Linked DNA regions of Homo sapiens: region 1 is linked to region 2. The links come from fine-mapping of genetic effects on gene expression. A gene starts in region 2. The other region holds a variant in brackets. All regions are shown on one strand. Distances are between the middles of the regions. Region 1 has its middle 73 kb from the start of ADGRG2. Region 2 holds the start of ADGRG2 (adhesion G protein-coupled receptor G2).

Evidence for each region. PIP is the estimated chance that this variant, and not a neighbour inherited with it, causes the effect. A credible set is the group of variants that fine-mapping cannot tell apart.
Region 1: its variant is the best candidate, but not a certain one, in a credible set for the expression of ADGRG2 in pancreatic islets (PISA, PIP 0.83).

Annotation. Positions count from the first base shown.
Region 1 is chrX:19,187,209-19,203,647 of GRCh38, forward strand. No RefSeq gene overlaps it. Among named protein-coding and RNA genes, the nearest start is that of ADGRG2, 73 kb to the left of the region's middle. RefSeq lists an enhancer at 7,503-7,602. The variant C/T (reference allele first, on the strand shown) is at 8,091.
Region 2 is chrX:19,113,273-19,129,711 of GRCh38, forward strand. It overlaps ADGRG2 (adhesion G protein-coupled receptor G2), which reads right to left and starts at 9,196. Exons shown (of 29, transcript NM_001079858.3): 1 at 9,170-9,196.

The sequences.
Region 1 (16,439 bases), 74 kb after region 2:
TTTTCCATTTTTCATTCATTCAGCAAATATTGATTGAGAGTATGTGTGCCAGGAATTGTGCTCTATTTATTCTAGTTACAATTGTATACACAAGCCTGGAGTCCTTCAGGCAGTCGTCTTTGCTAAAATGAACAAATAAGGGTAAAAACTTTCCACTCTTCAATTAGGCAAAATATCTATGTAGGCCAATTTTAAGGCGTAGGATTCGTTTTAGAAGCAGTCATTGAGACACTAGTGGAGAAATCCAAAATTTAAATATTCATAGATGTGTACCAAAACCAGAAATGGTTCTCAGTACCTTTACAGTAAAAGCAGAGAGCCTGTCGCCTGCCTGAATGTTCCAATGTCGTTCCATTGATACTTACGGTATTATTATAATATTAATGGTAACCTGATTGGTTACAATCAGACCCTCCCTTCAGGAATCCTGTAATAATATCCCAAGTTGCAGGATGCTGAGGGTAAAAAATCATTGTGCAACTACACAGATGGAGCCATTTTATGTCCAGCTACAGCACACAATCTTTGACACTACAATCTTGTCATGGGTAGTGACTATCTGGGGCCGGTGGCCTAGGTGATAAAGGAATTTACCAAGACAGTAGTAGGTAAAGAAAGGCAGATTTCTTAAAGAAGGTAAGAAAATATGTTGCAAGGCTGTAATGGGCAGCACAGCAGAGAAGGGGCTATCTGCAAAGAGGCAGGGGCTGGAGGGAAGTTTTATAGGGTCTTGCTGGAGGGGGCTACATGTGGAACAAGGTTGTACCCACAGGTTGTTTGTGATTAGCCATGTCTCAGGAAAATTATTCATTGTTCTTTCTCACCTGAGGCCCTCCTCCACCTGGGGCCCCTTCCTCATTGTTGCTTACTTATCAAGACTCCACAAATCTGTTTATGAATCAAGAAATGTTATAGCTTAAATCCCAGGGCTCTCCTGCCCCCAACAACTCTCTGAAAAATGCTGGAGAATATGTTGAGGCAAACAGGTTAGAAAAGCTCAAAATAGAAACAAATGCTTGATGAGCGTATCACAACTGTTGACACTTCAGCCCTGTGATAAGGTAGCTGTACCTGCCCATCATCAGAGGATGGCAGATGTAATTGTTTCTACCCATCCTCCCAACCCATGAGGGCTTGAGTGAAATGTAAGTGATGAGAAATCCTTTGAAAACTTGAATGTCCCACACCAAAAAATCCCACGTATACAGGGAAGATCAGTATCAGGGAAGGGAAGTCAGGGAAGATCTTGCTGTTTTTATAGGGAAATCTTTTCCCTTGAAATCACTTTGGAGAAAACATATTTTTTTTTTTTTTTGCCATTCGAAAAAAAATCTTTACTTATAAAATAGAATGAAAAAACTGAGCCCAAACACACAAAAGCCTTAAATTCATGCTTCTTATAATTTCCTACTGTAGTTCTGCTAGTTCTTAAATTTCATGATGCTCAAATTCTCCTTTTTGCATATCTTTTGTAGGTTTTCTCCCTCTCTGAGCAACGGTTGCCAGAGTCTTTTAGAATGACTTGTATTTGCTAATTGGATTAAAGGCCCGATAACGGCATAGATTTTTTTTTTTTTTGCAACATCCTGGTTAACATTCCTAATCTGGGCAACAGATGTTTCCACACCTTTTTGCATCTTGTGTTCAGTGATTAAGGTAAGGAACTCTTAGAATCTTCTAAATGATTCAAATTCATTTTCCACACAGTTGAAAGTGGCAAGTCATTAAGATAAAGGCTTTGAACCTCAAATGTTATAAACAGGAGGTGAAAGAAGGTGGAAAAGGGAGGGGAGTCTGTCCTCTTGTTCTTATTGTTTTCCCTATTTCTCTCAATTCTCAGAACCATCCTTCCATTTAATTTATTTATTGAAGCAGTTAATGCCTTTTATTATTCCATGCATATGGATAAAAAATATTAAAATGCACTTACTAAGTGGAAAAGGAAAGATATTTCCAACTTAGATGGTTACACCACTTTCATTACTGCGAGTTCATGCACCTAAAATACCTTAAAAAGGCAGGAAAAATTTTTTCCTGTCAGAAAAAGAATGTACTAAATTAAATACATGAATAAAACCCTCCCCGATTCCTCACAATAATTGTGTCTCAACTTGCTTTTCTTTCATTCAATGTTTATATATGTTTTGTAGGCCATTGGTGTTTGAGAAAATGGGAGGAAAATTGTTTGTTTGTTTATTTATTTATTTATTTATTTAGAGATGGAGTCTTGTTCTGTCACCCAGGCTAGAGTGCAGTGGCACGATCTCGGCTCACTGCAACCTCCACCTCCTGGGTTCAAGCAATTCTCCTGCCTCAGCTTCCCAAGTAGTTGGGACTATAACCTCCTGGGTTCAAGCGATTCTCCTGCCTCAGCCTCCCGAGTAACTGGGATTACAGGCATGTGCCACCACGCCTAGCTAATTTTTTGTATTTTTAGTAGAGACAGGGTTTCACTATGTTGGCCAGGCTGGTCTTGAACTCCTGACCTCAAGTGATCCACCGGCCTCAGCTTCCCAAAGTGCTGGGATTACAGGTGTGAGCCACCGTGCCCAGCCAAAATGATTATTTTAATATCAAAGTTGAGGTCTGAATGAAAAAATATGGTTTCTAATGTTCAAGTAGTGTTTTTTTTTAAAAAAGCACAAAAGTCTTGTTACAGCAGCACCCTAGTTGGACATGTTAACAAAATTAATTTTTTTAAAAAAGTTAAATACTACTAATAATGGGAAAAATCCTTTGGCTGTGTTTATTGGTGAGACTGATTAATCTGGCATTATAAAAACCTCACCTTTTCCACAACCAATATACTTGGAATCAAAGATGTGTGGGGCCTCTGTCTACATAGATTTGATACAAAAGCCTTGGTGTGCATAAAGAAATGGAGATTCTTGGGTCCTGCACACAGAGATTCCAATTTGATACATCTGAAGTTTGCCTGGGAATCTGCATTTTTAACCAACAGCCCTAGATGATTCTGACGTTGGTAGTTCAGAAACCATTCCTGGAGAAGCCTGATGCTGTAGCTCGACTTAAGATCTGCAACAATGCAACCCAGCCTGACATCCTTCAACAAAGATCCTCAGGGAGTTGACTTGAAAATGGTTTGATATCTTGAAATACATTCAGAATTATCCTCAATTATGACAGTTGTATTTTGCTAAACACCTTTGATCTTGTCACCAAACTCCTCTCGCAATTAGCGAATATGCAAGGACATGTCTGGTAATGCTTTACTAAGCACATTATGCGTTTGGCCAGAACTCTCTGGTTAGATAGTAGAGATGGGGTCACCTAACTCACCCAGTTTTGAAATTCAAATAAAGTGTTAGGATTCAAATAAAGGGTTCTTAGCCTACCACCATTATATATCAGAGTACTAATTGTCATTTAGAATAAATACTCATAAATGACATCTACATATATATTTTTTGAGACAGAGTCTCACTCTGTTGCCAGGCTGGAGTGCAGTGGAGTGATCTTGGCTCACTGCAACCTCCGCCTCCCAAGTTGAAGCAATTCTCCTGCCTCAGCTTCCCGAGTAGCTGGGACTACAGGCGCGCACCACCAGGCCCAACTAATTTTTGTATTTTTAGTAGAGACAGGGTTTCGCCATGTTGGCCAGGATGGTCTCGATCTCTTGACCTCGTGATCTGCCCGCCTCGGCCTCCCAAAGTGCTGGGATTACAGGCATGAGCCACTGCACCTGGCCGATATCTACATATTAAAAACACGTCAAAAGGCTAAAAGGAAGGGGTTGAAGACCCAGTTATTTTGACAATCAGTATATAGTATAGTCTGTTTTGCCAGACTTCACCAGGTATTGTTTCTGTTTCTCTTTCAAAATCAGTTTCGATGTATTCATGCAAGCGAGATTGGAGGCTTCTGGTGAATTCTAGAGTTCTGGATGGCCCCTGAGTCATTTGTCCCTCATCACAAACACTTGGAGGTGGCTACAAGAGAGAATGGCTTTTCTTCCTCTGTGTGAGTGGTAGAGCACCTCTACAAATGAGGCCAAACAAGCTCTCACAAATGAGGCAGATGGAGGAGCTCCTGTGGGAGCCGGCTATTTCCTTCCTCCATACTTACCCCTCTTTTCTGCTCTGTTGCCACCCTGGAGAAAGGAAGGGCAATGTGGCAGGAGACATTATATACTCACAGTTCTTCCACTTATTCCCTTCACTGTGCCAGGGCTTCACTGGGAGAGCATGCTTCCTTCTCTGTCCCATTGACTTTAAGCTTGGCCATAAGACTTGCTCTGAAAGTGGGAGGAAATGATAATGAATAAGTTCTGGGTTAAATTGCATTTGTTTGTTTGTTTGGAGGCAAGGTCTTACTCTGTTACCCAGGCTGGAATGCAGTGGCACGATCATAGCTCACTGCAGCTTCAAACTCCTGGGCTCAAGCCATCCTCCTGTCTTAGCCTTCGGAGTAGCTGGGACTACAGGCATGCACCACCATGTCTGGCTTATATATTTTTTTTAATTGTTTTTGTAGAGATGGAGTCTCACTATGTTGCCCAGGCTGGTCTTGAATTCCTGACCTCAAGTGGTCCTTCCACCTCAGCCTCCCAAAGTGCTAGGATTACAGGCCTGAGCCACCACACCTGGCCCTGGGCTGGATTGTTAAAAGGCATTAGGCATTTCTGCCAGGGCCTTCTTGCAGCCCTGTCATCTACCATGAGTAGAGCATGCCCCAGAGATCTGCTGGCTCCAGAATGAGACACATATACTCAGTCTGACTTGCAGGCAGCATTAAACACAGCAGCTACAGCCAATCCACAGACACATGAGTGAGAAAAATAAACATCATTTTGGTAAGCCACTAAGATTTAGGGGATTGTGTGTTATGCAGCAGCAACATAGCATTAGCTGACTGATACAGAAGGGTAATTGCTATTTACCAATGGCTCATTCCTTGCCAAGCACCATTTACATTAGCTCCTGTAATCTACAAAATTTCCTTCTGAAGTGTACTGATCCTTCCACCTTTCATAAAACATAAGCTCAGCTAAGGCAAGGCCCCAGTGATAACCACTCAGTGGCTGAACCAGCAATTCCAATTCACATGTGCTCATGTACAAACATGGTGATTATTTCACGGCCCTCTCCTACCTTCCTGAAGTTTACACCACACATAGTAGCAGCAACAACATAAAAAACAATTTTGCTCTTCTATGAAGGGCTTTACAGTTCAATGCACTTTCATGTATCTTCTTTCATCAATAAGAAAATGTCCAATTACTAATTGGGGCAACACCTTGTCCTGTTTAGTTCTGTTCCAGATTGAATCACGGTCCATGCGATTTGAAATGGTAAGTCTTTGGCTCAGAAAGTATCATGCTTTAAAAACCACAGGAAGGCTTAAAATAGACTGGAATATTCGGAGGTGCCAGGTATGAAAGAAAATCCACCAGATAAAAACCAGTTGAGCCAGTGTTTGGAGCTTTAGTTGACCAAAGCAGGCAGATGCCATAGAAACTACTCAGGATCTCACTCTGCTGCCCCACTGGAAGAGATAACCACTCAGAAGACACCAGCAGCATTGTCACTATTGCCTCTCAGAAGAAGCAGCATTTTTTTTTTTTTTGAGATGGAGTCTCACTCTGTTGCCCAGGCTGGAGTACAGTGGCATGATCGGCTCACTGCAACCTGTCCACCTCCTGGGTTCAAGCAATTCCCCTGCCTCAGCCTCCTGAGTAGCTGGGATTACAGGTGGGCACCACCACGCCCGGCGAATTTTTGTATTTTTAGCAGAGACGGGGGTTTCACCATGTTGGTCAGGCTGGTCTCAAACTCCCGACCTCATGATCTGCCCACCTCGGCCTCCCAAAGTGCTGGGATTACAGGTGTGAGCCACCAGGCCCAGCCAGGAGCAGCATTTTTCAACTCTGACTGCACACTCAAATCACCTGGAGAACTTAAGAAAAAGAAATCGCTGGGCCCTGCTTCCAAGCAAACTGAATCAGAATTTCTGGATTTGAGGCTGGGCCCCTGCAGTTGCGAAAGCTCCCCGGGTGATTCTACTATGCAGTCAGGGTTGAGTCCCACTAACCTGAAAGAGACAAGCAATGTATTTGCTGACGTTTACCATTAAAAACCAATTCCGCTCAATGACCTACACCTGGTGATGGGGTGCATCTCAGCTTTGCGTGCCTTTGAACTTCCTACCCAATGACTCTCCTATCATCATTTCTTCTCTACCACTTCCCTTTCTTGCATTGACTGTTGATGAAATCCACATTTATTTACTGAAATCCATATGTATGTCAATTCCTGAAACAGTGTTTGCCAAAGGATAAACTATACAAGTCTATAGGATTTGTAAGGAATTCACTTCACTGAGGTCCTATATATAGTAAGTTAACTTAATATATGTCACTGGCCTCACTAGCAAATAAATAAATAAATAAATAAAATCAAAGACTGTCATTTATATTGCTTCTATACAGGGTTCACACTTCGCCATAAATATTGCAGGGCGCTGACATTCTGGTTTAATTTGCACATTCAAGTTCTCAAGAATTCGCTTTGATTTACATAGTCAGAGACTGCATGCTGTCACGCCTCTTGTATAGAGACCCCTTGTGGCGTTCACCTGATTGCCTCCTCGGTTTGTGTGGGAAACGTTCCATTTCTTTTACAGTAGGATGTACAGCTCCTTTACTGCACTGGTGGTTGTTAATTTCAATACATTTGGATAAAAATAACATCTAACATTTATGGAGTACTTTCTATGTGCCAAGTACGGTTTTTTGTTTTTGTTTGAGATGGGGTCACTCTGTTGCCCAGGCTGCAGTGCAGTGGCACGATCATGGCTCAGTGCAGCCTTGACCTCCAGGGCTCAAGCAATCCTCCCACTTCAGCCTCCTGAGTAGATGGGACTACAGGTGCCCACAACCACGCCTGGCTAATTTTTTAATATTTTGTAGAGACACGGTTTCGCCATGTTGCCCAGGCTGGTCTTGAATTCCTGGGCTCAAGTGATCTGCTTGCCCTCTGCCTCTCAAAGTGCTAGGATTACAGGTGTGAGCCACTGTACCCTGCTAGGCACCATTCTTAATGATCTGTATGCATTTGTTCATTTAATTCTTAACCCTATGAAGAAGATGATGATGATTGCCATTTTATAGGTGAAAAAACTGCGGCACAGAGAAGTTAAGTAAGGTCCTCAGGGTCATACACTTATTAAATAATAAAGCTAGAAATGGAACCCAGATCATCTAGTTCTAGAGTCTGGGCTTTTGGCCACTAGCATATACCACATCCCCCAGCAGGTGGGGCACCTGTTTAGGTACATTTTAGGAGAAAGTGTGGAGCCACTGGTACTCTCATCACTGCTGGTGGAAGTGTAAATTGATACAACTACAAACAAATTGTTTGGCAGTAGCTCCTAGAGCTGAACATGTAATTCCTGACCGTATACCCACCAAAAACGTACACTCATGTTGGTGAAAAGACATGAACTTGAATGTTTATAGCAGCACCACTCATAACAAGACTGCACTGGAAACTACCTGAATGTCCATCAACAGGAAGATGAGTAAATAAATTCTGGTGTATTTATACCACTATGCAGCAATGAGAATGAACAGTCTCCCAACTACCTGAGACAAGATGGGTAAAACTCATGAACGTAATGCAGACGGAAAGAAAACAGGAAAAAAGTACATGCTGGATGATTCTATTTATATGTAGTCCAAAGACAGGCAAGAAAGAACCTCTGCCTTTAGGGACCAAGCTATTGGCTACCCTTGGGGGTCAGAGTTGTGACTGGAAGGAGCAATTGGGATGGGGGCTTCTGGGGTGTGGGTAAAGCCCTGTTTCATCATCTGGCTACTAGCAGCAGGCGTGTGTTTCGGTTTTGAAAATTCAGCAAGCTGTAGATTGAGGTTAGATACACTGTTCTGAGTGTATGGTGTATAACACTAAGAAGTTTGAAAGGGTACTATGCTATCTGCGATCAGATGTTATCTTGGTTAGAAGAGTTAGGTAAATATCTTCAAATAAACGTCTATATTTAAGGAAAATTGTCACTGCAGGCAGTTTGCGACATCTCTAGTGTTTTCCCTACTTTTCCACTTCTTATCAAAA[C/T]GACCACCTGAGTTAATAATTGTAAGAGAAGATGATGGGCTCGCTCAGGCGTTCGGGACAGTATAGTGTGCTCGTGCTCGCCCCCAGACAGGGGCTCAGAGTGACTCATGAGAGTTGTGTGAAGGTGCCGTTGCTAGGAGCCATCAGAACAAAGCGTCCTGGCTTGCTGGCCTCCGTGTCTTCTGGAGCACCCACTTACAGGGGTGTGGAGAGCAAGCAAAAGCAGGGCATAGGTTTCTTTTGTAGAAATCTTCAAGAATGAGGAAATTGAGATCTGGGGTGAGAAGCAACTCTACGTGACATTCTGCTGAAGGGCAGCCCCTCTTAGGAAAGATTCAATGCAAGCGGGTGGGAGCTGCTTCAACTAAGAATTCTCACTACTCCTGCACCTGTGGAATCAACCAATAACCCACCCTCCTACAGCCCAATCCACAATGCTCCATTTACCCCACTTCTGCCTTTGAGAGAGAGAAAGAGGGAAAAATTTCATCAATAACTCACAAAGGCTAAGCTTTGCCAGGGAAATTGCTAACTTTTATTTGCTTGAGAAACACACCTACCAAAAAGACTTTTATTAACCCGGATGCCTTCAGCCAAGTTCTTTCAAGTTAATCACATAGGTAGGGAAGAGCTTTCAAATTCAGATCAGAAATTATAATCAAACAGCCACAAAATTTACCTCTGTATTAGATAAAACAATGGCTCCCCACCTCGCCCCAGCCCATGAACCAGACAATATTACCAGATACACAGAAACCAGGAAGTCAAACCTCTATCTTCCATCTCTTCCTCTGTATGTGACACAGAATTACAGTAATTAAATGAGATAACTTTGGCAAAGAGTTTTCTTAGAGTTCTGCTGATTATTCTCAGGGGGAAAATCATATTAAAAGGAACTAGTTGAATTTAATTACTGGATTCATTCATCATTCATTTTCTGAATTTGCTCCCAGGTATGATTTCCAGTTGAATTTTCAATCTCAAGCTATTTCCAGAATGGGATTTATTCTCACCTTGTTCGCTCCATCACCTCTCCTGTTTGTCTCCCCTCTCTCACCACTACACACCTGAAGTTCCCACAAGGGCTTAGTGGGACTGAAACTAAGAAGCCCAACATGACTTCAGTGGCAGGAATATTTTCAAAGATTTCCCTGTAGATGGGTCTGGATACTCAACTATTGCAAAAAGGCCTTGGCTTCCTTCTGGGCTACTGCCCCGGGGACATTGGTCTCCACCTCAGCCCAGCGGCTCGGTGCCCTTGAGCTGGACATGGGAACAATCACCAACTTTCAGAGCCTTTTCAATTCCTTATGACGGCAGAATTGAGGCTCCCAACTTCCACCACTACTGCAGATTGGATTCACTGAGGAGCTTAAAAGGAGGCATGAAAAGTCCTCATGAAGGACGGTGTCCCAGCTGAGTTCCGAACCAGGAGGCAGTCTGTCATCAGAACCACCCAGCTGGGCGTTCCTGCAGCCCTGGTCTTGCCTGAGTTGATTTCAGGTGCTTTTCACTTGAAGGTGAAAAGAGGAGGAAAAATACCTGGAGAGAAGGGAGAGGGGAGATTAATTCTAGGCCTGGTGTCTACCCCATGTCTGATCTGATGAAGGTTCTGAGACTCTAGAAAGATAGAAGTCAGGACCTAAGGCTGAGGAACTCCACTCATCAAAGACTCTCTGACATGCTGGGCCCGAGAGGGGTCATGCCCCCCATCCCTACTCTGCCACAGACCACCACATAGCACTGGCACTCTGGGCCTTGGGGTGGCCACTAATAGAGAATAGCAAGAAACAGGTACCTACCCAGCAACTGTCAGGAGCTAGGGACCCTGACAGCAAAACAGCTCAGAAGAATGTGAGCAAGCCCTTTCTTGAATACCTATAAGACACTTGCCCTGCGAAGTCCCAGGGACATTAGAGGAGGGTTGTTGTTGTTTTTTTTTTTTGTTTGTTTGTTTTTGTTTTTTCTTTTTTGTGGGGGTGAGGTGCGATGGGCTAGGGGGTCCTCATAATTTGGGCATAAATGTTAATGTGCTATCATTACCCCAAACTGCTAACATTTGGGAATATTTTAATTATTCTAAAAAAGGATGTGCTCCCCAATCTCTTTAAAAATTAAACAGATTGTGTTTTATGAAGCTACTTTCAGAATATATTAAAGGTGCGCTATATAAAGAATAATTAGATTGTCAAAATACTTTGAGAAATACCGGATATATATATAATGTCAAGCAGGTTTCTTTTTTTTTTTTCTTTCAGGACAGAGTCTTGCTTTGTTGTCCAGGCTGGAGTGCAGTGGCATGATCTCGGCTCACGGCAAACTGCCTCCTGGGTTCAAGCAATTCTCCTGCCTCAGCCTCCCAAGTAGCTGGGACTATAGGCGTGTGCCACCACACCTGGCTAATTTTTGTATTTTTGGTAGAGACGAGGTTTCACCATGTTGGCCAGGCTGGTCTCGAACTCCTGACCTCAAGTGATTCATCTGCCTCGGCCTCCCAAAGTGCTGGGATTACAGGTGTGAGCCACCACGCCCAGCCCAAGCAGGTTTCTTTACTGAAAAACTTCTCAGATCCTTGAATGTGCCAATGGGACGAGTCCCTGTATTAATCAGGATGGGCTAGGTTATGCTGCAATCACAAATGACCCCACAATCTCAGTGGCTTACATAGACAAAGGTTTATTCCTCACTGGTTTTGCTGTACATCATCTTCACTTTGGGACCCAGACTGGAGGAAGAGACTCTAGTGTTTGTTTTCATTTCTTGTTTTTACACATAATATAATGAACAGATCTTATGAATTTTGACAACTGTATACACCAGTGTAACCACCACACCAATCAAGATATAAAGTATTTCCATCATCACACAAAGTTCCTGAGTCCCCCTTTCCAGTCAGTTCCTCTCCTGGCCTGGGGCCACCACTGATCTGATTTCTATCACTATAGATCAGTTTTACCTGTTCTAGAACTTCGTGGAAATGAAATGATGTAGTATATATTCTAGTGTTTGGCTTTTTAGACTCGAGGTTTTTTTTGAGAATGATTTATGCTATTGTATGTACCAGTTGTCTATTCCTTTTTCTTGCTGAAGGGTAGTCCACAGTACAAATATATCGCAGTTTCTTTATCCATTCACTTGTTGATGGACATTTGGGTTGTTTTCAGTTTGGGCTACTATGAATAAAACTGCTACAAACACTCCTCCACCAGTCTTGTAGACATAAGTTTTCATTTCTTTTGGGTAGATACCTAAGAGTGGAATGGCTGGTCACGTGGTTGGTGTATGTTTATTTTTATAAGACAAAGAAATTGACCAACTGTTCTCCAAAGTGGTTGTACCATTTTACAACCCCACCAGCAGCATATAAAAGTTTCCATTGCTTCACATCCTTGCTAACTAGTCAGTCTTTTTACATGTTAGCCATTCTAGTGGGTGTGAAGTGGTATCTCACTGTGGTTTGAATTTGCATTTTCCTGCTGACTGATGTTCAGCATATTTTCATGCACATTCCTTTTCCTTCTTTTGTGAAGCCTCTGAAACAGCCTCTGTCTAGGAAGTTATTGGTCTCCCGGCAAAGGAAAATAAGAGACATGGTGAACCTGGAGCAGATCCTGAAGCTTCTGCTCCAAAATGATACACATTATTTCTGTCTACATGTATTGACTAAAGCAAGGTACACGGCCACTCCTGAGTTCCACAGGGCAAGGAAGTCCAACCCTCCCATGAGGAGGGTCACTGGAATGTTTGGCAAAAAGGAATATAATCTACTCCAGTCCCCAAGAAGGATATCCTAGTGGAATTTATTTTCTCAACAGGACTGTATGGTGCCTTTTATTCTCCTACTTCCTAGGTGTACCCAATGTATAATAAATGCCAATCAAGCTTGTCCAATCTGCTCACACATGTATGAGCAGCCTTGCACCGCCCTCTTCTTTGGGTTTGCTATGTGCCATTGTACTCACTTCAAGAAAAGATAAGGGGCAACTTGACTGATGCTGGGCAGGCAGGCATCCAGGAATGAGAAAAATGAGATCCCAGGTGTTCCTTCTTCTAGTTCTATAAAACTGTAAAAAGCATCCCCCATCACCATGAGAAAGACAAGACCACAGTTAGGACCTTGTTTACCTCTTGGAAAGGTCTGTTTGTGCAATGTGGTGGGTCAAGCTAGCCTGAGGAAGTTGGCTTTTATATCTGCTGGTCTTATCAGTTGTCTTTATCTCCTTTTTCTCTCTCTAAGGAGCTTGACGTGAATTTTTTAAAAAGTCTACTAATCTGTTATTTATTGCAGCTTTATTTGTAATTGCAAAATATTGGAAACAGTATTAACACCCAAGCATAGGAGAGTGGCACGTACACAATGGAATACCATGCAGCTCTGATAAAAGATGCAAAAGATCTCTATGAACTGATACAGAGTGATTTCTGGGAGCTAGTATTGAAAAAAAGAACATGAAAAAGCATATATAGGTTGCCAGTTTTGTGTAAGAAAGAAAACATACATATTTCTGCTTATCTTTACAGAAAGAAACACAAGAGGGATAAACTAGGAAACTTTGCATTTGGTATCCTGCAAGCAGGAAGTGAGTGGAAGGGATACAGGAGGGATTGACACTTCTCTGAATGTAGCTTTTGGTGTAGTTTTAGCTTTTGAAAGCAAGCTAATATTCTACATATTTGAAAAGTTAAATTAAACCCATAAGAATGAGAAAGGAAAAAAACTAAAATGAAAGCAAATGGAAACGAACCACTGTGTATCAATGAACATCAAATGAACATCATAATTACACTGTATATCAAAGGAACATCATAATTATACAGGAGGGAAAGGAAGAAAGCAAAGAGAGCACTAATCCAAGTAATTTAAGAATACAATATTTGACTATAAACTCTCGGTGTCGGACAGGGTAGAGTGAGAGATGAGGGGAGAATCACAACAAATTCCAAAGTCATTTTGTAGAGCTGTCTGTTGTAGGATGAGTGAAATAATGCTGAAACTATTTTAGAGCCATTACAGGGCTGAACAAATGAGTAAACGTGTTGATGTCATTGAGAGCCAGCATTCTCATTATGGACGAAGGGACAGAAAAATATGAAATGGGGGAGGCAGGAAATAATCCTGTGGAGATAAGCTGAAATTGGAGGTATCAGTGCAAACTCATGATTTCTGAAATGTGCACATATATGTCTATATGCATGTTTACATACACACTATATATATGTGTCCATGTGTAGGCATGTATATGTATATATACGTGCATATATCTCTTAACTCTTTCCAGTGAAAGGGCCAAGAAGCACCGATAAAATGAATACAAATAGCATAGAGATCTTGGTATCTAATACCATTCGCCATTAAAGGAGCCAGAGCTCCTAGGAAAAATAGCTGAGTCCAGGGCTGGGATAGTGTAGGTACAAGATAATCCTGGAGTATTCTGTTATGTCGGAAAGTAAAGGAGTGCTCAAAAGCATGATGGTGGCCTGTCACGAAGATTCAGGAACCAGCTTGAAGGGGCTACTGCTGGTTAAATCTGGGACAATTTATGAGTTCATACTGGTCAGATAGACAGACAGACACGTATAGGTGCAGAAATAGGACAGAGGGGAAAAGCTTCTTCTACTTATAGTTGAATGTCAAGGGCCAGAAGGTCAAGGTGGACAGGGTGTTAGAATCAGAAAAATCATCCTTTTTTGTTTGTTTGTTTGAGGCAGGGTGTCTCACTCTGTCACCCAAAGTGGAGTGCAGTGGCATGATCACGACTCACTGCAGCCTCAACTTCCTGAGCTCAGGTGATTCCTCCTACCCTCTCAGCCTCACAAGTCACTGGGATTACAGGCGTGCACCACCACAAAGTGTTGGGATTACAGGCATGAGCCACCATGCCCGGCCAGAAAAATCATCATTTTGCAAACTTCATGGTAAAAATTGGCTTGAGCAAGAATCATCAATGAATTGTAAAGCTAGGACATTTTGATGAAAAGCAGGATATTTGCATGAATTCAAAGTGTCTCCTTACAGAGTGTATATTAGATGCAAGGGGGAGGGATCCAGTGACATTATAATGGAGAAATTGGACAACACTTTGGGTGATCTCAATTAATTTCCCCCATGAGGAGCAGATGGACATCACATACCTCCAGATGTGATACCTTAGGAAAGGCACGCTATCAGCGCAGTTTTCCAGCAAAGAATACACAACCTGAATCTAACCAGGAGGAAGCAAGACAAACTCCAAAGTTCTAGAAAGGAACATGTACCCAACCTGTCCAACCACAAAGCTCATTTTAATGAACGAGCCATTAAATATGGAATACAGTGTTCTGAGGACTTGATATAGGAAGTTATGTCCCAGAAAAGGGGACATAACATGATCAGAAATGGTTTTTACTGGGGGAGAGGGGCTTGCAGAAGAAAACGTCAGTTCCAGGACCAGCTCCTTTCCAGGGTGCAGCAAGGGTGGTTGTGCCTCCTCCTTCTAGGTTTTAGACCCTGAAGAAATGTCAGCCAACATCTTCACCTTCTTGCCTGTGCATCTAGGATGGACAGATGGACAGATGGATGGGCAGATGGATGAAGCGGTGGATGATAAGGAGCTGCCCGACTTCATGGCTCACCTCTGTAATGTCACAAAAAGCTCTGGACTGGGAGTCAGGCTTTCCAGGTGGCTGCATCTGGGTCACACACACAATGACAGAAAAACATCATATGTGCCCACAGCCTCCAGAGGCTTTATGACCACTTCCCATCTGAACCATGATATAAACGAAGGAAGACACCCTGTATACAAGGGGAGTGTTTTAGTGAAACAACTCCTGTGGTAATTTTGCAAAATAGTATCAAGCGTCTCATTACCACATTGATATTAATTAAACAAATATCAGGAAAATAAGTATAATTTTGCTAAACTCAAATGACTTACAAGGCAGGAAATGATATTTCTGTCCTAACAGTATATCAAATGCACTTTATGCAATGTGATGTTGGATTTCACAAATGATACAGATTCTCTTTTTGTCAAGTTCATTGGCTTTGAAAGCTGGGGCAATGGACTGCCAAGTGCAGACAGAAGAGTCAGCCAGTTGGTAAACAACGTTGGGCTTATTTATTTAATAATTTACTTATCACAGAATTCCATCAGTGCTTTGAAAATGCCTTTAATTGATGACAAGGAGGTGGTGTTAGAGAACTTGCAAGGGGCTCTGGCTGAGACCCAGTTGGTTGACAGGAAATTTAGTGGATATAGGCAGAAGTCAAAGCAGCAGCCTCTAGGGTTCTGGTGCCACCCCTGCCCCACAATGCTGGACTGAGAAACCAAGGGATGAACTGGAAGCTTCGGGTTGTCAAAACTTTCTGTGAACAAATGCAATCAAAACCCAAAGCTCCCCATTTGAAAGGCCTATGAAAATGGGTTAATTAGGGTCTAGAAAATCCTGTGTGAAGAGTACTCAAAACATCTAAGAGTTTGATAGTGGATGATTTCTTCTCTTAAATCTTGCCAGGTTAATAGGGGGTGAGTTTGGGGCTGAAAGTAAGAATTTGGAGTGTGCAGACTTTTAAAGTTCTCCTGGTTAGTGTCATCCCTGGAAAGCTTTCTTTGGGAACATTTTTGGAGACTACAGCATGGGCAGCTTCACAGCTGTCTAACCAGTGCGATGACACAGGGCCTTGTGCTCAGAAAAGCCCTGTCTACAGTTTAATGCTCAATTGTTATTGTACTGAAATTCTTGATAATTTTTTCTTCGCATTTGTGTTTTGTAAGTGAAGCCCGATGGGATGGGACAATGGAGCAAGAGCTGGGGGGAGCTTAGAGCCTGGCCCACCTTGGGGTCACCTTCTGCTGCTCCCCACCTCTCCCAATGGGTTTTTGGCCACCCCTTCTCCTCCACCCATTGGAGCCCCAGCCCTACCTGGCTGCCTCCTCTCTGCCCTGTGACTGACCTCTGCCACCATCTACCTGGGGCAGTGCCCAGGTAGCATTGTGGGGAGGGGGTAGAGTGCTGTGGGTAGGGTGGGGTAGGGAGCTGGGGGAAAGAGTTGGAGACCCATGTTGTACCAGGCATAGGTGCCAGAAATGTCCGGGTGCCACCTGGAGCCTCTGGTCAGGCATAGCCACAGTTGTCCCTGCTCTGGGCTGGCAGCACCATGGTGGGCTCTGTGGGCCACTTGGTAGGTGCGAGCCTCTAATCCACCCCAATCCAGATACTGAGGTTGCAATTTATTGAGGGTTGGTCACCTGCCATGGGTGGGGGCAGTGGGCCGTGGGAAGGGGGTATTGACTTCCCCTGGGGCCAGGGCACCGCATACACACTGATCTAGTGGCTGGTGGGACAAGGAACTTGACAGGCAGTGGA
Region 2 (16,439 bases):
GAAGCTGAGGCAGGAGAATCACTTGAACCTGGGAGGCAGAGGTTGCAGTGAGCCGAGATTGTGCCACCGCACTCCAGCCTATCTCAATCAATCAATCAATCAATGCAACAACCCTAAACTGGATCCTGTACTAGAAGGAAAAAAATGCTGTAAAGGATGTTATCAGGTCTATTGTCAAAATTGGAATACAAACGGCAGATTAGATAACAGTATCTTATCAAAACATTTACTGAGATTGATAACAGCGCTGTGATTATTTGAGAGAATATTCTTATACTTAGGAAATCCCTACTGAAGGATTTAGGAGTTAAAGTTCTTGCTGCATGAAATTTATCTTCAAATGGTTCAGGAAAATCCTAGGTACACGAGCAAGAGTGTAAATGATAAAGCAAACAGGATAAAATGCTAACAACAGAGGAATCTGGATTAAGGGCATGGGGTGTTCTTTGTACTTTTTAAAAAAAATGTTCAGCTCATTTGTAAAGTTTAAAATTATTTCCAAATAAAACGTTAAGGCCGGGTGCGGTGGCTCACGCCTGTAATCCCAGCACTTTGGGAGACTGAGGCAGGCGGATCACCGGAGGCCAGGAATTCGAGACCAACCTGGCCAGCATGGCGCAACCCCATCTCTACTGAAAATACAAAGAAAAATAGCCAGGCGTGGTGATGGGCACCTGTGGTCCCAGCTACTCAGGAGGCTGAGGCAGGAGAATCACCTGAACCCGGGAGGCAGAGGTTGCAGTGAGCCGAGATTGCACCACTGCACTCCAGCCTGGGCGACGGGGCAAGAATCTGTCTCAAAAAAAAAAAAAAAAAAGTAAAAAAAAAAAAAGTCCCTGAGAAGACAAAGAGGATGAGGGACCCAGAGCCCAGAAAAGCAGCCAGTTTTTGATCCATTAGGGGCATTTCAGTCACAGCTTCACAGTGGCACTGGGGAACACTTTATTTGCACAAATATGGGCCTGTTGGGGGTCCAGGTAGTGGGTTATGAGGAGGCTCCTGTTGAATGAGCCAGAATCAGCAACTGATCTAGGAGGGGCAGAGGAAATAAAAGGTGTCAAACAACTGTTTTGGAGAATGGAAAAACAAACCCACTAGGCAAGCATGGTAGGACTGCAGGCCATGTTGAAGGTCCATTTGAGGTTTATTAAGGTCAGGAACAAGACCTGGACATCGGTATTGATTTATCAAGCTCCCCCAGTGATTCCAGTGGGCAGCGGGCTTTCAGAACCACTGTGCCACGGCAGGGTTTCTCAACCTTGGCACTATTAATGCTTGGGCCGGATCACTGTTTGTTGGGGTGAGGGTGCTGTGCTGTGCACTGTAGGATGTTTACCAGCATCCTCGACCTCTCCCCACTAGGCGCCAGTAGCACCTCCAAACCCTGCCAGTCATGACAACTAAAAATGTCTCTTGACATTGTCAAATGTCCCCTGGGAGGCAAAAATCACCTCCAGTTGAGAACCACTATGCTAAGCCATAAACGTGACAGGCTTACAAAGGTCAGGAATTGTGCGCACTCCTTGCTCTAGCTAGGAGCTTGTGATGAAGAACACAGGCTCTGAAATCAGATGGTCTGTATTCAAACCCCGGACCTACTGCTTACCTTCTGTATGACCTTAGACAAGTAACTTAACTTCTCTGTACCTCAGTTTCCTCATCTGTAAAATGATGAGAATTGTACCTGCTTCAAGAGGTTGGGAGGATTAAATGAGTTAATAGATGTAAAGCAATAAGGGTAGTAACTGCTCAGTAAATATTAGCTATCATTATTATTACGAGAGTGTCAGAAATATAGTGGATACCAGGTGAGTGTGTATTGGTTAATGAACTGCTTACATTAAAATACTCCACGCTTAACCTAAAGAAATTTCCACACTAACATTGGAACAGAAAGGCAGGGCACATTATACTTCTCTTAGGACAAGTGTCAGATTTTATCTATATTCTAGGCTCATTCATTCGGTCATTTGACACGTGGATAAAGCACCTACTACGTCCCACTGTTCTAAGTCCTGACAACACAATGATGAGCAAACTACACAAAGTCCCTGCCTTCCTGGAACTTATATTCCAGGAAGGAAAAGAAGACGCAGCATCAGTAAACAAATAACTAAATAACATAATTGCAGGTAACAGTGATATAAAGAAAACAAAAGTGGGATAAGGGAATGGACCCTTCCTGTGGTAAGTGGGGAGTACGGTTTTAGAATGAGGGTTAGAGAAGACTCAGATGAAACAAAGAAACTATCTGGTGAAATGGTGTTCTGGGCAGGTAGCACAGCAAACGCTTGGCTTGGGTGAGGAACATAAGCACGGAGGAGGCTGTGTTTGGAGAAGTTGAGAATAGGGAGTAAAGGAGGTACCAGTGAGGCCCTAGGGATTGATTGTAAGTGTGGTAGGAGGCGGCGCGGTGGCTCCCGCCTATAATCCCAGCACTTTGGGAGGCCGAGGCAGGAGGATCACTTGAGGCTAGGAGTTCAACAGACTGGCCAACACGGTGAAACCCTATCCCTACTAAAAATACAAAAATTAGCTGGGTGTGGTTGCATGAGCCCAGGAGTTTGCGGCTGCAGTGAGCTATGATCACACCACTGCACTCCAGCCTGGGCTACAGACTGAGACCCCATCTCGTCTAAGAAAAAAAAAAGTGCAGGCCGGGTGCAGTGGCTCATGCTTGTAGTCTCAGCACTTTGGGAGACTGAGGCAGGAAGCCTGCTTGAATCCAGGAGTTCGAGACCAGCCTGGGCAACACAGGGAGACCCCGTCACTACAAAAACTTTTTAAAAATTAGCCAGGCATGGTGGGGCAAGCCTGTAGTGCCTCCAGCTGCTCAGGAGGTTGAGGTGGGAGGATCGCTTAAGCACCGAAGGTTGAGGCTGCAGTGAGCCATGATCATGACACTGCACTCCAGTCTGGGCAAAAGAACGAGATCCTGTCTCAAGAGAAAAAAAAAGTCCGGGCGCAGTGGCTCATGCCTGTAATCCCAGCACTATAGGAGGCCGAGGTGGGTGGATCAACTGAGGTCAAGAGCTCGAGAAAAGCCTGATCAATATGGTAAAACCCCGACTCTACTAAAAATATAAAAATTAGCCAGGCATGGAGGTGTGAAACTGTAGTCCCAGCTACTAGGGAGGCTGAGGCAGGAGAATTTCTTGAACCCATGAGACAGAGGTTACAGTGAGCCAAGATCGCGCCACTGCAGTCCAGCCTCAGCAACAGAGATTCCGTCTCAAAAAAAAAAAAAAAAAAAAAAAAAGTGTGGGAAGAGGTCATTAGAGGAGTTTGAGTCATGGACTTATAAGACTGCATGTATTGGCTATTCTGTGGGGTCAAAAGTAGACACTGAAAGACTGGTTTAGAGGCTACACAGTAATTCAAGAGAGAAATAGGTAGTTACACTGATCTCAGAGCATAATAAATGAACTTACTTTGCATCATAGCAGGATCTGATATAAAATGAATCGGTTCTGGACATAATCCAGCAGTTTGGGGACTTAGAAACTAAATGAGCAGTTTTACAAAACAATGTTTTTCAAACTGTGGGTCAAAAAATCAAATGAAAGGGTAGTCAAATCAATTTGGAAAATCATGATCATCAGTTTAAAATGAAATAGAACAGATGAAAGATAATTGAAAATATCAATACATTGCACACAGGAGAAAGACAAAGACTTTGTGAGAGTTTGTTTCCATTATATACAAGTATGTTTGGACTGAGCTGAAATATAAAATGTGGCCAGGCGTGATGGCTCACGCCCGTAATCCCAACACTTTGGGAGACCGAGGCGGGTGGATCATGAGGTCAGGAGTTCAAGACCAACCTGGCCAAGATGGTGAAACCTCGTCTCTACTAAAAATACAAAAAAAAAATTAGTCGGGTGTGGTGGCGGGCACCTGCAATCTCAGCTACTCGGGAGGCTGAGGCAGAGAACTGCTTGAACCTGGGAGGCAGAGGCTGCAGTGAGCTGAGATTGCGCCACTGCACTCCAGCCTGGGCAACAGAGTGAGACTCTGTCTCAAAAAAAAAAATTAAAAAATTAAAAAAAAGAAAGAAAAAAAGAAATATAAAATGTACTTATTGTGAATGGTGGGCAAAAAAAGTTTGAACACTAGAAAAAGCTACCTTGTTTATACATGAGTAGGTTATAAACTGTCTCTTGATTCTCTTTCTTCCTCAGTACACCCAGCATTCCCCCAAATAAGAACATTATTAAAAAAACCTCCAAAGGTAGGTTCTTCATCATCTAAATAAAATGAATTACCAGGCGCAGTGGCTCATGCCTGTAATCTCAGCACTTTGGGAGGCCGAGCCGGGTAGATCACTTGAGGTCAGGAGTTCGAGACCAGCCTGGCCAATATGGCAAAACCCCGTCTCTACTAAAAATACAAAAATTAGCCAGGTGTGGTGGTGCGCCGCCATAGTCCCAGCTACTCAGGAGGCTGAGGCAGGAGAATCACCTGAACCCAGGAGGCGGAGGTTGCAGTGAGCCGAGATTACTACCACTGCTCTCCAGCCTAGTTGACAGAGCAGGACTCTATCTAAATAAAATAAAATAAAATGAATTGACTTAATGCTACACTAACTTCTCCTCCAGTGAGATCAAAATATGAACTTCCAAAGTCAAGAAGCAAACTAACTGATCCTAAACCTCTTAGGCTTTCAATGGGAAAAAAAAAAAAAGAATTCCAAGCAGAACAAGAAATTTTAAAATTAAACTTTTAGACTTTTAGCAAGCTAACAATGGAAAAGAAACATCCTGAGGATAATTAAGGTAGCCACCAGAACCCTATGGCAAGCACAATAGTTAATGGTAAAATAGTAGCAACTACTACTCAACATTATCCTACAGGGAAGCCTAGCCACTAAAGCAAGAAAATAAAATGAGGTAAAAATATTGGAGGGAAAATTCCCTATATTATTGCCATTTGCAGACAATTTGACTGTCTACTTTGAAAATCCAAGAAAATCAACTGAAAAACTATTAGAACTAAGAAAAGTTCAGTAAAATGGCTTGAATGTAAGATAAATGTACAGAAAAACAATTAAATAGCCTTCCTACTCACTACCATAGAAAATGAAGTGGGAAAAAAGGATACAATTTCTTTTTGTTTTTGTTTTTCTTTTTTGAGACAGAGTTTCACTCTTATTGCCTAGGCTGGAGTGCAGTGGCCCAATCATAGCTCACTGCAGCCTCAAAATCCCCGGCTGAAGAGATCCGTCTGCCTCAGCCTCCTGAGTAGCAAGGACTACAGGTGCATGCTACCATGCCCAGATAATTTTTTAATTTTTTTTGTAGGGACGGGAATGTTGCTATGTTGCCCAGGCTGTTCTTGAACCCCTGGCCTCAAGCGATCCTCCCACCTTAGCCTCCTGAGTAGCTGGGAATCCAGGCACGAGCCACTGTGCCCGGTTATCAGTTTTTGATAAAGCTCACATACAACATAGCCATCTTCTACGTGTTTACCTGAGTGAAATAAAAGTTTACATTCATCCAAAAAGCCATATGTGAATATTTATATTGGCTTTATTCATAATCATCAATAGTTGGTGAGTGGATAAACAAACTTTGGGATACTGCTCAGCAACAGTAAGGAATGAAGTATTGATCCGTGCAACATAGATAAACCTCAAATGCATTATGCTAGGTGAAAGAAGCCAGGCTCAGAAGCCTACAGAATACATAAGTTCTTTTACAGGACATTCTGAAAAGAACAAAATTATAGGGACAGCAAACAAATCAGTGGTTGCCAGGGGCTGAGAGTTGGGGGAGGCTGACTACAAAGAGTCAACAGGGAATTCCTTGGAGTGGTAGAATTCTTCTACATCCTGATACGGTGGTGGTTACATGACTATATACATTTGTCAAAACTTCTAGAACTGTACACTGAAAAGAGTGAATTTTACTGTAATAAGTTACACTTCAATTTGAAAAACATGGAGTAGACTGAAGAATCCATTAAATCGATTTGTAAAATGGGACAGTGTTTACCACAATTTATTTGATTGCGGGAATTTATTTTATGATAGCTTTCCCCAAATGTTAGCCCGTTTAAGTTCCATCACCCACCACCTCACACCACAATCCCAAAATAAATTCCATGCGGATTAAATACCTACACATTTTTGAAACCATAAACATTTTAAAAGAACTTTTTTCTTCCTATCTTGTGGTCAGGAAAACCTTTCTCAGTGAAGCATAAAAACTAGCTCCCAGGTTTTAACTAAAGTCAGAATCCCTCCTTTCTATCTTTTGAATCATGGACATCACAGAAACACCTCCCTCTCCCTCCTTTTGTTAATTTAATAGCACTCTTCCCAGTTTGGATCGTGTATTTGAAAGCGACTTGGCACGCTCAGGCAGAAAAGTGGAAAAATGTGTTTTTCAGTTTCATCTGAGCCGTCAAAGCACCAAGAACATATGTCGTGATGTCCTGCTCTGAGTCCCCACAATGATCACATCAGCCATGGAAAATCAGCTTCTTTGCTGGCTCTTCCTTGCACCTGAGCAAACTCACTTTGCCATTTCTGGAAGGCTGTTCATGGTACCAAAAACACAGCAGCTTTCCTTTCCCTGCCAAACCCGCCAATGAAATGCCACTTATCTGACTTTTTCTCCCTCTGCTGAACAAAATCATATCCATAGTTAGAGTACAATCTTTTTCTTTTCTGTATTTCCAACATTTCTTTTTTCTAGAAAAATACACACACCTGGAATCTGTGTTTTTTGGGCAAGATTTCTTCACAGACAAAATACTGATGCTGGCCCTGCCTTTCTTCAGTGTTTTTCAGTAGCTAAATATGCTCTATCCCCCTTTTAATGAAAGTCACCTTGCAGAGATGTGGGAGTGATAAAAGCAGAAGGGAATCCGATCCGGGCTGGCATCACGCTGAGGCCCTGTAAAAGAATACTCCTGAAAAGCTACAAAATTTGGCCACTTTTTGTTTTCCAGCTTTGCATTTGAGCTGTGAAAGCTGCCAAACCAAGCAATGTCCAGCTCATCTTAGATCTTAACTAAGCAAAATTTTATGAGATGCTAAATAGAGACTCCCCAATCCTTTGAAAATAACACACAACTTGTCAATAAACTTACAAAATTATTTCAATATCAAACTTAATTGTATTGTCTATCAATAATTAAGCTCCTAATAAACTGTTAACTGTTGATATTAATAAAGTAATAAATTTTGTCACACCATGCATGCCTGGGTATGCTCTTAGACTTATCTCTTCAGATAGCCAAAGAGGAGTTGAGAAAGATTGGAGATAACTGCAACATCTAGCTAGTCTTCCCTTAATAAACCTCTACTCTCCATCACCCACCATCTCAAACCCTGATCAAAAAATGGGTTCTCTTTCCACGTATGGTGACTATTAGGATCAGCTACATAATTTGTGGGACCCAGTGCAAAATGAAAAGGAGAGGCCCCTTGTTCAAAAATTAAGAATTTCAGCATTAAACCAAGTGCAGGATGCATGTCCATGAAGCCAGCCCTGCTATCAGATCATGTATTTGGCTAGAAAGTTGGTAAGAAAAGTAAAATATTTCGCTATTAAATGAGTAGTGAAGGAAATCAAATCATTTTACCCCAAAATATATTTCTTTGACATATTTTGAAATAGTTGACATATTTCTAAATATTGACGTATTTAGAAAGCCAGCCAGTAGAGCTAATGCAAAGCTGTCCTTGGTGCGGAAGATTTGCATTTGTAGAGAATCTGCACGGATGTAGCCAGGCTTTATCGAGGTCCTCCCTTGTCCAGATCTAAGAGAAATTAACTGAGGATCTGACCCCTTTAAAGGTCTGAAAGAAACATTTACTGTTTATTCTCTCTGAGGGCTGCCACCTGTGAGGTTTCATTGACATCTCCAGACCATTTTTGCTGGCCAAGCCTCCTCTTCTCCCCCTCTCACAACCTCTTTTACCACCATAACCTGTTTGGGGCCATGCGTTGAGACCCCTTTCTTTCTGTAACCTCAAGATAATCTACATGCTTCTGTACCCCATTGGGGGGCTGGGGGTAATCACTCTATTGTTCTCTCCCCGTGGACACATTAATACATTTGCATGCCTTTTCTCCAATCAATCTGTCTTTGTCAGTTAATTTTTCAAGCGAACCTTCAGGGGGCGAAGGGAAAGTTTCCCTTGGCCTTTATAGTAGCAAGTGTTTTTGCGTGCGTTTGGGGGTAGAGGTGGCAAAGAGGTATTAAAGCTATACATACTGTAAAGTCTTAGGACCTCGTCTCCCAATCTCCCACTTTTCCTAAGGTTTTCAGCCTGCTGGACAAAAAGTACTTCCGTAGGGCCTGCCGGATAAAGTGTGGTCCATGGAACAGCATCAGCAGCCACTGGGAGCTTCTTAGAAATGCAGACGCTCGGCCCCCACCCCAGACCTGCGGGATCAGAATCTCATTTTAACGGGATCCCTGGGGGATTATCGTGCACAGTACAGACTGTCACTGTCGAAGCAGCCACGGAAAACCTGTCCCCTGCTTCGTCTGGCTCTCGGGAGGTCAGCTCTCTTCTTCCCCCTCACTTTTTATCGGGTTTCGGAGCCTCGAAACTCGAGTCCCTGCCGAAATGCGCTCACTCCGAGACCACGAGCCCCCTCCTTCCCCGGCGTGCTCACCCCCTGGCTCCGGGCCGCCGCTCCGTCCCTCGGTGCCCGGGGCCACCTGTTCGGGGCCGCGCCGAGTGGTGCCGCCCCAAGCCGTCCGGGGCCCGGGCGCGTTCGCGCTCCGCCAGCACCGCCGCAGCCCGACCAGGCGCGCGGAGCCGGGCTCCCGGGAGTTGGCGTCTAGCACACCACCCGCGCGAGTCAGGCTCGTGGCTCAGTTTCCCGCGGGTTGGGGAAAGTACGGCTCCGTCCGAAGGTTTTGGAGACGCGCGTCTCCCCTTGGAGCCTCCTTTCCCACGGCGCGCGGGCTCCCCCAGTCGGGGAACTAGCCCCGGGGCTGGGAGCTACGCCTCCGCCTTTCAGGATGTTCCCGGGCCCCGGCTAGGAACAGCAGCCGGGCGGAAGGCGCGTTCGTCCCGCCGGCCCGCTGGCCCGCCGCCCTCCGGGGCTAGACGCTGCGCCCGAGCCTCCAGCGCCCGTGGCCGGCTGTGCGAGTCTGGGTCTCAGGACCCCAAGGGGCCAGACCCGTCCTGGCGCCGAGCGCTTACCTGCCGCTCGCGTCCTCGGGGCTGGCTGCTGGCGCCGTCCGGCCCGCCTTTTCCCCTCTCCGGGGCTGCGGCCCTCCTCCCCCCGCCCGCGGCCTCGGCGCCGCCCCCGCCGCTCCCGGCCCGCTCCGCCGCCAGCTCTCCAGCTGCCCAGCGCGGCGTGGCGCGTCGGGCGCTCGGCGGCGGCGAGGCTGGGCGCGGAGGTGGGGAGCGGGCGGGGCGCGGAGGGAGGAGGGGGAGCGGGCAGCGCGGCCGGCCGAAGCCGGGCTGGGAGCTCGGGGCAGGGGCAGGGGCCGGGGAGAAGCGGGGGCGGCGAGCTCGGCCGCCCACCCCACCGCAGCCGGGGGCCCCGCAGCGCTCCTGGGCTCCAGGCACTGCGGGACCCTCAGATGCCCGGCGTCCAGCCCAGCGAGCTCCTCCTTGGGGACCCCAACGGACCCCAACCTCCAGACTCAGCGGCTCACCTTTAGGGCTCGCCCCGGTACCCATATGCCCGTTTCAGTGTCGCACGCTGTAATGGGTGGGAGCCCCGAGGGCGCACTTCTACCAAGATATTCCTGAATCCGGAGATCAGATGTCAGACCACTTGAGAGGGGAATTTGGAGAGAGCAGTAAACGAGAAATGTCCCAGTAAAGGATTCAGTTCGATGGTTTTCCTGGTGAAGGACTGGAAATACACCGGGTTCCCAGAAACCGGGATCTCGGGCGCTCTGCCTGCTGGGGGTCGAGGTGGAGGGGGTATATAAAGTGAGTTGTCCCTGGTCCCCTCTACCTTTCTGTCTCAGCATCTCTCCTCCTGCATGGTCATAGAATAAAAACTAGATCTGGATAGGACTTACAGATCCCCTAAGCAATTTGTCAAAGTACCCTATTTTACAGATGGGAAAATGGAGGCTCAGTTCTACAATACGAATTAGTTGTAGAGACCAGGGAAAAAATAAGCGCTCTGAATTCCCTTTCCGGCTCATTTTACTGCCCCCCTCCCCCGCCGCCTTTATAGTCGAATAACACCTGTGTTTGCAAAATGCTTTGTCGTTTTAAAGGCATCGTTCTCTTTCGTTAAACCTGCGGGAGAATATACCATTTTTCCTTTACAACTAGAACAAAATTCTGGATTCTGAATTGCATTCACAGCCCTGGAGACGCGATGGTTATCAAGTGCAGATCTTTAAGGCATATCCTGGCTGACTCTGCCATTTTAGACACATGATGGGCGAGATGTATATTCTGCTTTGCAGGAGGGGTTGAATTTGTTTTGCAAACACCAGTTTATTAACACTCACAACATTCTAACTGAATAAATGAATGGACAGTCTTTTCAGAGAGACTTTTAACTGATTGGATTAAGGGAGAGTAGAGTCAGGAAGCTCATCCAGGTTACATAAATTAAAAGTTTTGATGAAGGGGAAAATGGTGTATTAAATAAACACACCCGGTATTACTCCAACGGGTTAAATTGGTTCCGTTTGAATGAACTTAACACGTATTTTTAACTTACATATAACTTTTGCATATTAACTTCTTTATTTTTGCTTTACATAGACCTCATACCTAAAGAATTTTCATACACCGCTAGTGGGAGTGTAAATTTTTACAAGCATTTTGGAAAACTCTTTGGCAGAATCTATTAAAGCTGAGAGTACAACTACCCTCTGACCAGCAATTCCCCTTCTGGATGTACACACAACCTCAATCAGTGTGTATGTTTACCAAAGGATATGAACTAGAATATCATACCAGTATATTTGCAATAGCCCAGATTGGAAATGACCCAGATGCCCACCAACAGAATGGATCGCAGACATTGTGATGGTATAGTCACAAAGCGGAATCCCAGACAGCAATGAGACTGCATGAACCACTGCTATGCTTAATATAGATGAACCTCTGAAACAATGTTGAGTGAAGAAGTCAGGCCCAAAAACACAGACACTATATGATTTTGTTTCTGTAAAGGATAAAACAGGCAAAACTAACCTATGCTGTTAGGATAGCGGTCACTGGAGAATAAGAAGGGCTTACAGGTAATGTCTGGCTTCTTGATCTGGGTACAGTTTAAACGGATCTATGAGCACTTTTCTGTATGTATGTCTCACGTCAATAACAAGTTAATATATGTCTATCTCATATTAACAGTTGCTTGAATTTCTAAAGTTAAGCGTGATACCAGAGTAAGTATGCTTTTCCTTTAAACAAACTTGCTGTTTAAAAAAGGACTTTAAGGCTCTTTGGGAGGCTGGGGTGAGGGGATTGCTTGAGCCCAGGAGTTCAAGACCAGCCTGAGCAACATAGTGAGACTCCATTTCTGTAAAAATAAAAAATAAAAAAAAATCAGCCAGGCATGGCGGTGCATGCCTGTAGCCCCAGCTATTGATTATTGTGAATAAAGGCAATATAAATATTCACATACAGCTTTTTGTGTGAATATAAACCTCTATTTCACTTAGGTAAATACCTAGAAGTAAGAGTGCTATGTCATATGGTAAGTTTAGCTTTATCAAAAACTGGTAGCCAGACACAGTGGCTTGCCCCTGTAATCCCAGCTACTGAGGAGGCTGAGGTGGGAGGATGGCTTGAGCCCAGAAGTTGGAGGCTACCATGAGCTATGATCATGACCCTGTACTCCAGCCTGGGTGACAGAGTGAGATCCTGTCTCTAAAAAAAAAAAAGAAAAGAAAGAAAAAGAAAAGAAATATGTCTAAAAAACATAAATAAGACAGTTCTTAAAAATTCATATTTTGCTGCACTTTCAGCCAAAGTTTCATTCTTCTTGACACACACTCTCAGATTCACATAACTCTGACATCAGGGCCTATGGAAGAGGAAAGAGGTTGGGATTAAGGAGGGAACCCCGGCCCTCCAGCCACAGGTTTTTCTGCCTTTTCTGAGAGAGGGAGCCCTAGTCACATGCCTTCTACACGGGTACTATCTGGAGATATGAAGGAAGGCTATGGCTGCTCAGGATTTGCAGGTGAATATTTATCCAAAGCCTGTGGGCTGATGTCCCAGCAACTGAAGAGTGGGTGGCTTTGGCTGTAGTCCCACAGGGTCTTTGAACCAGTGATGGAGCTTGATCAGCAGGCATCAGTCAGGCAGCAAATATGGCAGAGACCGAATAGAGAAGGCAAAAGTTCTTGTCACCTTGCCCCCTTCCCACTGGTAGGTCCCTTAATGAAGGTTCTTGGCAAAGGGAGGTGGCAGAGGAGGACAGCTCACCAGTGCTCAGGGCACGGCTCTCCTTAGAACTTCAAATGTAATTGACCTGTGGCCAAATCGTCTACAAATAGAGCACATGATGGTCTAAAACAGATTCATTCTTTCCCAAGGGAAACAGAGCATGAAGAGAACATGGGGCTCAGGTGCAAATCAAGACGGTGAGCTGGGCTGGGCGTGGTGGCTCATGCCTGTAATCCCAGCACTTTGGGAGGCTGAGGCAAGAGGATTGCTTGAGCCCAGGAGTTCGAGACCAGCCTGGCCAACATGGTGAAACCTCATCTATACCCAGAAAAGTACAAAAATTAGCTGGGCATGGTGGCGTTGCCTGTAGTCTCAGCTACTCAGAAGGCTGAAGTGGGAGGATCGCTTGAACCCAGGAGGTCAAGGCTGCAGTGAGCCGGGATTGCACCACTGTACTCCAGCCTGGGTGACAGAGTGAGACACTGACTCAAAAAAAAAAAAAAAAAAAAAAAGACTGTGGGATGAGGGTTTAGGATAACAGTAACAATCGACTAATACTGCTAGATCTTTACATACTTTATACTTGATTTCACAAAATCCTCGTGGCAACCCACAGAGGACTGTACAGCTGAGGAAACCAAGGCACAGATAGGTTAAGTGCTTTTCCTAAGGTCCACAGCTAGTAAGTGGCAGAGCCAGGACTGGAATAAGTCAGAGCACAACTCTCAAGCCCCTGCTCTCTTAACACCTGGGTGTGAAAGGTGGAATGGTGTCATAGCAAAAGCACCAGGTAGACAATCAGGAAACGAGGGGCTTGGTGTTTACCAGTGTTGCCACTAACTAATGGGTATCATCACTTAGACAGTCTGGGTCTCAGTTTCCCCACTTGTAAAAGACATAGGAGGTGGCAAGGTCAATTGAAACTTCAGTGATAATGCCAAGGTTTGGTTTGGGGGGCTTTAGGCCCCCCATAATCCCCATCAGCACTCTCATAGCCCAAATAAAAGACATGTAATAAAAATAGTGTACTATGCAAACAAAACAAGAAAAGTCCCCTCACCAACATGGTCCTCACTTCCCACACACGTGTAATCAGATTACCATGTCTGAATCTCTTCTTTATAGAAAGGAATTCTAGAGCAACACTGCTCAGCAGTCTCTTCTGGCTTAAGTCATTCATTCATTCATTCAACAAACATGTATTTTATGCATATGGTATCAGTGAGGATAGCCTAGGTTATTCTGCAGTAACAAACAACCCTCAAAATCTCAGTGGTTAGTATAAACAAAGGTGTTTTGTTTGTTTGTTTTTGTTTTGTTTTGTTTGAGATGGAGTCTCACTCTGTCACCCAGGCTGGAGTGCAGTGACGTACTCTGTAACTTCTGGCTCTGGGTTCAACAATTCTCCTGCCTCAGCCTCCCGAGTAGCTGGGATTACAGGTGTGTACCACCACACCTGGCTAATTTTTGTATTTTTAGTAGAGACCGGGTTTCACCCTGTTGGCCAGTCTGGTCTCAAACTCCTGACCTCAAGTGATCTGCCTACCTCGACCTCCCAAAGTGCAGGGATTACAGGCATGAGCCACCGCGCTTGGCCAAAAACATTAATTTTTTTACTCACACTACATGTGCATCATAGGTTAGAAGGGGGTGTTTACTTATTGCAGTCAATCAGGGATCCAGGATGACTGAGTAGCCACCTTCTCAAACATTGCTGGTTGCCGAGCTAGAGGGAAAAGAGAGCTCTGGACCACAAGTATTTAAATGCTGTAGCCTAGAAGTGGTGTACAACGCTTCTGCACCCAACTCATCAGCTGGAACTGTGCAAATAGTTGCACCCAGACACAGAGGGCCAGGAAATGCAGCCCTAGAAGGGCCTGCGAAGTGAAGAGTTGGAAATACTTGGTGAACAGCACCGATGACTACCACACCTACTACATGCCAGACCCGGGGCAGATGAAGATGGGCAAGATGCAGTCCCAGCCCTATAGTCCCCCCTCACAATCAAACCAGAGAAGTCTCTGGTGATGCAATTCTACCTCCATGGTATAGGCTTTGGTGGATCTAGGTGAGAAACCAATCACTGCCAACTTGAGTGAAGTCACTGTGTGATACAGCATTTTTTTTCTGGAACATTGTGTTAGTTGCAATGGTGGTGAACCTATTGCACAACGGATGAGATAAATAAATCACACACTGTCTCGTGGGAGGCAAAAAGGCCCTCTCTTGGGAAAACACTGAATGAAGACAGTTGGACATGTTGTCATTCTCTTCAATGAAAGTTACAAATGGCAGTTTAATGAAAAATGAAACCAGACCTTGGCCTCAACCAAGATGAGGAAGGTGGGACCAGCCCTTTTTGAGAATGTGTTCCAAGTTAGGAAGAGCTGGTGGCCCTGTGCCAACACAAATAACCCGAAAATCCGGAGGAAACTAAAGGCAGCACAGTCAATCTGCACGCTGGGATTAGTTTGTGAAACTCACCACCACCCTGCCTGGCAGTGAGTGAGCCCAGGGCTTGGGGGTTGGAGTAGGGAGTTGAGGGAGGAGGGCAAGCACATGTGGCTCTTTAGTAGTGAGAAGAGACAACTCTCAGGGCCAGGTCACATCTAGCTCAGTCCAAATTTGAACAGCAATGGCCCTTTTTGTTTCTTGGAGGAGTCCATGAACTCCTGGCCGTGCGATTTTAAACCAAATCTCTTGCTTTTCCTGTCTCTGAAACCACAGGGCACATTTCAGGAGAAAATTCTGGACAGACACATCCCTATAGCACCCTAGTTTGCCTTCTCTATCCGTTTTCCCCTAGAGGAAGATACTTCGAGACTATGCAAATATCCTGTTTCTCCTCCAACCTTCTCCCACTAATTTTAGCATCCATCGGTAGATCATGCATGCAACAATTATTCCTGTGGTGTTCTAAAGGCGATTTTCTATTTCCCTCATTCCTTCTATGTGAATTCATTGGAATCCTTCTATAGGGAAGAATTCTCTCCCATTTATTTATTCAATTATTTATTTATGTCAATATGAATTCATGGACAAGGAGTTTAGTCTTTGGGTTAGAATCCAATGTTGTTATTATTGACTTTATTGTCAGTGTCCCAGCTTCAGTCATTGCAAGCTCTTTCAGGCTGGCTCCTGTGTCTCCATTCTTTCTTGAGCACTTTCTTACTTTCTGGCACCATAATATGCTCCAGGCTCATTTGTATATTACCCTATTGTTTTTTTCATTTCACCTAAGAATATGCCTCATTTTAAGTCCCCTTCCTTTTTTTTTCTTCTTTTAGCCTTCTTTCTTTTTCTCTTTCCTCTTTCTTTCTCCTTTCTTTCTTTCTCTTTCTTTCTTTTCTTTCTTTCTTCTTTCTTTCTTTCTTTCCTTCTCTCTCTTTCTTTCTTTTTTTTTTTTTTGATGGAGTCTCATTCTTTTGCCCAGGTTGGAGTGCAATGGCGTGATCTTGGCTCACTGCAACCTCTGCCTTCTGGGTTCAAGTGATTCTCCTGTCTCAGCCTCTCGAGTAGCTGGGACGACAGGCGCATGCCACTACGCCTGGCTAATTTTTGTATTTTTAGTAGAGATGGGGTTTCACCATGCTGCCCAGGCTGGTCTCAAACTCCTGACCTCAAGTGATCCGCCTTCCTCGGCCACCCAAAGCGTCGGAATTACAGGCATGAGCCACCGTGCCCAGCCCCCATTTGTATGTTTTTAACCAATTCTCCAATCAAGGACCCACTGCATAAAGTAATGCTCCATTTTATTTGTACTAAGTTGCTTTTCTCAAGTTGTAACAGTTATGCTACCTGGATCTAGAGTTTTGGAATTTGGGGGAAAAATGCCTGTTAACTTAATTACATCCGTCATCATATTAAAATATTTTTGTTATGCCCATTGGCTTCATACTTCCTTAGTTTCATCTGTCGTTACAACATTTTTGGCTATAAGGATCAGAAACCACAAATCCACTGGTTTAAATCATAAGGAAATATATTGTTCAGGGAACAGGAAGGCCAGAGGCATAGTGCAAAGATTCTGGCTCCTTTTTGCTGTGGTCCTTTCAGCTCTGCCCTCGCCCTGGTTTTCCTCATGGTCATATGCTGG